Homo sapiens: one gene and its partner. The protein of the gene in region 2 purifies or fractionates together with the protein of the main gene of each other region. This does not show direct contact. Each region holds a gene or a part of one and is shown on either strand. Other genes may lie near its edges.

The links.
Region 1: the proteins of PLAAT2 (region 2) and SCAF8 purify together in Homo sapiens (affinity purification with mass spectrometry; one large-scale study listed by BioGRID and IntAct). This does not show direct contact.

Annotation. Positions count from the first base shown.
Region 1 is NC_000006.12:154,806,123-154,809,943, reverse strand, and holds part of SCAF8 (SR-related and CTD-associated factor 8), read right to left. Parts: intron 1,875-3,821; coding exon 1,743-1,874; intron 1,259-1,742; coding exon 1,146-1,258; intron 1-1,145. UniProt on the Homo sapiens protein: Anti-terminator protein required to prevent early mRNA termination during transcription. Together with SCAF4, acts by suppressing the use of early, alternative poly(A) sites, thereby preventing the accumulation of non-functional truncated proteins.
Region 2 is NC_000011.10:63,553,102-63,556,922, forward strand, and holds part of PLAAT2 (phospholipase A and acyltransferase 2), read right to left. Parts: intron 1-3,821. UniProt on the Homo sapiens protein: Exhibits both phospholipase A1/2 and acyltransferase activities. Shows phospholipase A1 (PLA1) and A2 (PLA2) activity, catalyzing the calcium-independent release of fatty acids from the sn-1 or sn-2 position of glycerophospholipids.

The DNA of each region.
Region 1 (3,821 bases), on a different chromosome or scaffold from region 2:
GGAAAAAACAATAACAAAAAAGTTGTCTTATATTTAGTGACAATATGTTAAAATATTCTGAAGTAAAATCAAGTCTCAAAAATGCATTTTACTTAAATCCGTGTGCTGCTTAGGTCCATATTAGTTGGCAATGATTCTGAGTATGGGTGACTATTCACAATGAAGAGGAAAAAGATTCTAGAAAGGGCCTCACTTTCTCTTAGTGCATTCCAACTCATTTTTCAAACAGAAGAACAGGAATGAAAGACCAAAGAAAATTAAAAGACCATTTAAGTGTCAGAGCATTAGGCCACTACATAATTCTGCTTAGTAGTTTCCAACTTATAAAATTTTATGGTGCTTGTAGAAGGTGACACTGAAACACTTTCTTTTTTGCCTGTCAACCACATGCCATTGAGCTCTCTTCAAAATGCTTAGTAAGATGCTGCTAATGACAAATGAAGATATCTTCAGCATTAAGATTGTTAATGCTTCAGGAAAATAATTCAGTGATACGCGGTGGGTTTAGAGAAAGTTGAACTGACAGGCTCTCATTTGCAATAGATAAATATAAAGAACTTTGTGACAAGAAAAAGAAATGACTGAAAAACTCATCAAACGTACTGCCCCTCTTACACCATTTACTGTTCAGATTTTCAGGGGCATTCATACGCAAAAAATAGGATACAAAAATGTTAAAGACTGATGTCTTTAAGTTAAGCTCATAAAGAAAACTGTTTCCTAACGGTTTGGTATTACAGTTAATGTTTATAAAAATAAATTTTGTAGTTTCATTTTTATAACCATTTTTGGTATCACTGTGAGATGAGTGGAATCCAGGAAATATGGCCTGACTTAACTGTTGTTCAGGGGCAACAATATTCTAAATTGGGTGTCATCATAATATTAACTAAAATAAAATATAATTCAAAATCCCTGTCTCATGATATGGCTGCCAATCTTATGTAAATTACTGAAATAAATAGCCACAGATATACCAATTAAAACAGAACAAAGGTTATCTTGTTTTTGGAATAACTTTTTTTCCGAGAGACTGAGAAAAAATATGTCATCCCAAGGAAACATTTCCTTTCATCCTGATGCAAAGAAATAAAGCCAACATTTTAAAGTTCACACACGGCTATTATTAAATATCATTGTAGAACCTTGAACGAGATCGTGAATGTGTTCTTGATCTTGAGCGAACCGCCACTTTCTTAGCTTCTTGTTCAAAGACCTCCTCTTCCACTCCATCTTGCCCTTCATCTATATCCATATCCTTGAAAGTCAAAAGAACAGCAAACAAACAGAAAGGCTGGTTGAGACAGAGTTATACATTGACAATTCTGTTTTTAAAAATATTGACGATGGGAGCATTAATGCCTAATACAGGGGTGTCCAATCTTTTGGCTTCCCTGGGCCCCATTAGAAGAAGTAATGTCTTTGGCCACACGTAAAATATACTAACACTAATGACAGCTGATAAGCTTAAAAAAAAAAAAAAATCGCAAAAACAAATCTCATATTGTTTTAAGAAAGTTTACAAATTTGTGTTGGGCTGCATTCAAAGCAGTTCTGGGCCATGTGCTTGGCCTAGGGGCCATGCTTAGGCCTTGGACAAGCTTGGCCTAATAGGTGAAACAATTACAAAGTGGAGCTTAAGTGTGGGAAAAATATATTCAGGGCACTGCTAGTATAAAATATTTTATGATTTCTTTAGCTACTTTTAGAAATTTATGACCCAGAAAAACATTTACTTTTACCTGTTGCTGAATATCTATGGAATCATCCAAATTGACTTCAGGTTCAAGAAAATGCTGCTGACTACTCCCTTGTGATGGTGACGCTGAATGCTCTGACCCAAAGGTTCCTTCCTGACTATCCTGAGGAGTGGCCTATTGAGAACATATACAAACACACAAAGATTGGGAGATACTTTTTGTTATGAATGAAAATGTAAACACAGCAAACATCACAATTACATGTTTAAAAACATGAGCCATACATAAAAGAAATTCCATGTTAAATCATTTATAAAGTAATCAATCCAAAATTAAACATTTGTATAAACTCATTTTTATATAAAAGCAGAGAACAGCTCCATAAAAGGAAGGGACTAAAATATTAAAATGGTAAAATCAAGTAAATTTTCAATTGTGAAAATATAAACTACAGAGGACTAATAAATAAATTATAGCATGAAAAATACATAATGGCAGTCAGTTAAATGAATCTAGATTTTCACTGATAATTGGCATTAATAAAAAATGCTACAAAGAAAAAACAGGCCAGGCACAGTGGCTCACGCCAGTAATCCCAGTACTTTGGGAGGCTGAGGCGGGTGGATCACGAGGTGAGAAGTTCAAGACCAGCCTGGCCAAGATGGTGAAACCCGTCTCTACTGAAAATACAGAAAAATTAGCAGGGCACGGTGGCGGATGCCTGTAATCCCAGCTACTCAGGAGGCTGAGGCAGAGAACTGCTTGAACCTGAGAGGCGGAGGTAGCAGTGAGCCGAGATCTGCATTCTAAATCTCTCATAGGTTTTATACTATCTACCTTATAAAAACAGTTCTAGTTTTACCACTCTCTTTTCTTCATTAGATTCATTTTTGAACAATGAGGTTTTTCAGAACTTCTATTCCTTTCAAAGGGATCTTATTATTCTAAGCTGTGAAATTTTGGAACTGATATATAGAGTAATTAACTAAGCCCAGAGTTCTCTCTTTTTGGTAGGTGAGATTCTTACAACAGACTCGCTCTCTCTCAAGTTTATTTTTACTTCAATAACATGGTGCTAATTACAAGCTTGTTAAGACTACTTGATTCTGCTAAGAGAGAGACCATTAAAAACATAAAGTACTACGATTACAGTGCTTCTGCTAAACCTTCTAAAATGAAACTATGACTAAAGCAATTCACAAAGTGTTACATTTATAGCTCAACAAATCTGTTGTTTGGATAAATTCTTCCATCACGACTACCTCCTGCCTCTCTTAGCAGTTCTGTGATTTTTGTATTATTACATCACTGACGAGCTGTTTGTTTTGAGTTACAACTTTGTTTTTTCTTTAAACAACATCTAAATGTTCTTAATTGTGTTCTATCTTCAACTTCTGGGTTCTCAGGCAGATACATTTGCTTGACATAAAATACTGCCCCTACTCTGGCCACTTATATCAGAATTGTTTCTTCAAAAAAAAGGTATGAAATTCCATTCTCATAATTCTAGGCATGAGTTCCAATGCAGCAAATATCATTAACATCCATTTTATATTACTGTTTGCATTAAAAAGTCAAGTTCAGACCCCAATGTCTCAAGTTTGCTATCTCTTCCATCTAAAATAACTGTTCCCCCCTCCATGCTCCTAGAATCCTTCAGCTGTACCTCTATGACAAAAATAAAGAATTCTGCCAGGTGTTCATACAGATGTACGTGCTCCATTAGAGAAGAGGTTACCTGATGCCACAACCTCATTTCTGTTCATCTCTGTATGTAACACTTGCCTAACAAGTAACACATACTCAAAAATATTTTGTGATATTTTTGTTAAACTCATTAATGCCAAAACTTTTTTAATATTAGGATGTATGCTGGGGAGGGAAAGGGGGTTTCCTAATACTTTTATTCTGAACAGTTTACATGCGTAACCATTTCTCACATACAGCAGAAAAAGGCTTTGAAATAAATTTAATCCTAGCTCTACAACTTAACATATTTTATCAGTTCTAAGGTGCAATATTTTGTCAAAGATTATCAAATTCGTAAGATGAACTTAAAGGATCCTTACAACTCAAAAGGATGTTACATTTAGTTATCGATGTTTTAAAATTCTTAGCTAT
Region 2 (3,821 bases):
AGGGCGGGACCACGATACATACACCAGGAAACTACAGCTCAGGAAAGACTCATCTGGCCCAGTCCTCTTCATTTGAATCACAGAGGGAACAAATATTGGCTGGGAGAGGGGATGCCAAGAGGTCAGGCCACCCAGGAAAGAGGAGTGGAGATGTCTGGTGGGCACAGAATGAATGGAAGAATGAAGCCATAGGCGTGATATACACAGAGTCAAAGGAGGAAAACCAGATGCACCTGTGGGTATTAAAAGCATAATAGGTCGGGCTCAGTGGTTCACACCTGCAATCCTCACACCTTGGGAGGCTGAGATGGGCCGATTGCTTGAGCCCAGGAGTTCAAGACCAGCCTAGGCAACATGGTGAGACCCCCATCTCTACAAAAAAATACAAAAAAAAAAAAACAGCTGAGTCCAGGTGGTGCACACCTGTAGTCCCAGCTACTCAGGAGGCTGAGGCAGGAAGATGACTTGAGCCCAGGAGGCGGAGGTTGCAGTGAGCCAAGATTGCACCACTGCATTCCAGCTTGGGTGACAAAGTGAGTCCCTGTCTTAAAAAATAACAATAATAATTAAAGCAAAAAGCATAGTAAACCCCCAGCAAGGACAGAGGGGCAGTGCCCCAATGTTCTAGGTCAGGGCTGGCTGACTGGGGCCCTTGAGGCAGATATGAAGTTGGGAAATCACCCCTGGGAACTCTCACTACACAGGCTTGAGGGCAGGGAGCTCGCCTGGATTGGTCTCAATGTCCCAGGTGCTGATCCCACTGCCAGGCACAGAGTCGGCACTCATAATTCATCTGCTGAACAAATGCTGGCCCATGAGGAGCATTGAGGGTGTGCTTTAATGAGTAAGATTGTCTCACTTATGTGCTGGCAGGAAATGGTTCTGCAAAAGGAAGAAGAAACTGAAAAAACCACAGAGATGTGAGGCCGACCCCCGAGGGTTGGTGTGCTCGGCACAGCTTTTGGGAGCTAGCCGAGACAGTCTGCTGCGATCCTGTGGGTCTGCCCTGCCTGGGCCACTGTCTCTGAGAGACTAGCACTGGAGCGACTGGGGGAAACAACACGGGGTGGGGGGTGGGGGTGAAAACTGTGAGAATGGCTGCTTTCTAGATATCAGCACTGTGCTGGGAACTCTCCAGGCCCAGTATTTTTTTTAATCTGCCTGACAACTCTAGGAGGTAGTGATTCTAATTCCTACTTTCCAGAGGAGAAGACTGAGGATGGACAGTGTAAAGAACTCACGCAAAGGCCGGGGGGGCGGTGGCTCACACCTGTAATCCCAGCATTTTGGGAGGCTGAGGTGGGCAGATCATTTGAGGTCAGGAGTTCGAGACCAGCCTGGCCAACATGGTGAGACCCCCGTCTCCACTAAAAAAAATTAGCCAGGCATGGTGGCGGGTGCCTATAATCCCAGCTACCTGGGAGGCTGAGGCAGGAGAATTGCTTGAACCCAGGAGGCAGAGGTTGCAGTGAGCCAAGATCACGCCACTGCACTCCAGCCTTGGTGACAGAGTGAGACTATGTCTCAAAAAAAAAAGAAAAAAAAAAAAAGAACTCACGCAAAGCCACACAGCTGACAAGTGACAAGGCTCAGATCTGCCTGACTTCCCAACAGGGGCACTTAAGCCCTTCACAGACAGGGAAGCAAGTATTTAAACCAGCGACCAAATAGCAGATTTCTGTGGAGTATCAATGAATTTGAAGCATGTGAGTGACTGGGGAAAAGAAAGGGGGAAAAAAAACCATTTTATTCAAATACACTCAGAATTGTTTCCAAGTGTCAAAGACAAACAAAGCCAGACATAACTTAAGACAGCAAAAACAGATTTGATTCAGTCTCTACTGACAGCAGGGAAAGAGCTGAGCTCCATTCCAATTTGTGCAGAGGTGACTGACATTGTAAAGGGAGATGGAGGAGTAGGGAGACGGGTGAGCGAGGGCTCATAGAGTCAGGGAGGTGAAATATTACAAAGGATTAGTCCCTGAATATGCGATGAGGCCAGCTGTGTCTGCTAGCTGGCAATTATCAAAGTTAGGATTCTAACCTCCCACGGATATTGGGGACAGAGGCTCTATCCTTCCTGATGATTATATTTCAAAGGACTGGCTCTCAGGTCCTTGAGGAAGGCACTTCAGAGTTGTAAGGGATATACAGTCAGCCCTCCATATCCATGGATTCCACATCCATGGATCCAATCAATTGTGGATTGAAAACATTTGGAAAAAAAATTTTTTAAAGAACAATAAAAAATAATACACATTTTTAAAATACAGTATAACTACTTACATTGCATTGAGTATTATGAGTAATTATGAGTGGCTCATGCCTGTAATCCTAGCAGTTTGGGAGGCCAAGGCAGGTGGATCACTTAAGCCCAGAAGATTGAGACCAGTCTGGGCAATATGGTGAAACCCCATTGCTACAAAAAAGAAATACAAAAATTAGCCGGGTGTGGTGGCGTGTGCCTGTAGTCCCATCTACTCAGGAGGCTGAGGTGGGAGGATCCCCTGAGCCCAGGAAGGTTGAGGCTGCAATGAGGTGAGATCACATTTCAGTGAAGCACCTCTGCACTCCAGCCTGGGTGACAGAGTGAGATGCTGTCTCGAAAATAAAATAAGTACATGGGAGGATGTGCACAGGTTATATGCAAATATCATACCATTTTATACAAGGGACTTCAGCATCCATGGATTTTGGTGTCCTCAGGGGGTCCTGGAATCAATCCCTTCCCCACCCATGGATACCAAGAGATGACTGTATCTATGTTTCAAAGGGACAGAGGAAGGATTCATAATTATAAGTCCTTTGTAATAAACAGTCTAAGAAAGGGTCAGGGTCTTTGTCAGGTGTTCGTTAGAACAAATGGTAAATTCTCCTGGCAGCAGAGAGCTTTCTTAGGCAGGCATTTATCGGGGGGCTAGGGTCATCCTACGGACACAGCCTTATTTTGCCAGAAGCAGTGCTAGAGCTTGGTCATCTATTAGAGCAGGGGCTGGATGGCGTTGTTGTGTGCCAAGAGTCCTGCAGCTTTCACAAGTCCACTTTCTTACAGAGCAAGAGCTAGAGACAGACAGAGGAGAGTCTTTCCAGACAGACAGAGTCAGATGAGAAGGAAGGAGGGAGAGGAAGAAAGAAAGGCAAGTTATTGGGTGACCTGCAGGAGATGAAGTTCAACAAGAGAGGCTCCAGGACAAGGGACAAACTAAATAAAACTGCCTCCCCTGAGTCTTCCCCATTGGCTTGAGTTCTGACCCCTCAGAAGCATAGCAGAGGGCCAACCACTTCCTAAAATTGGGGTCTTCCAGATTGATTTTGTGGCTTCTGCACAGCCTATAGAAGAGCTTTTAGATGTATGATAAGGCAGCCCACCCCCAATCCCCTTCCGACACCCCTCCCATTCAGAGATAGGTCTACCCTCCTCAGCTCAACAGAGGGGAGACCCTGTCAGCAGGGTTCCCACTGAGTACCAGAGCATGTCCCACCGTGCCCCAGTGCCCAGCATGGCCTGGCAGTCTCTCAGTTAATAGCGTGGTCTCCCTCCTGGGGTACTTGTTTCCAGAAGTTGTGGATTTTCCTTACCCATCTCCCCTTTTTATCACCTCTCCTTCTCCTATCATACAACAGAACAGCTAAATCCTCCCACACCCTGAATCTACGGTGCACAGGCTAAGGTGTAAACACTCCTAGTCACCAGTAAGGGAGGATTCAAGAATGCATTGCTCCTAAACAAAGAGGGCTTCAGAAAGGAATATGCAACCACGTCGAGGCTCCTGCCTCATCTGTCTGCTGCTTTAGAATGAGAATTCTAAAGTGAGATGGTT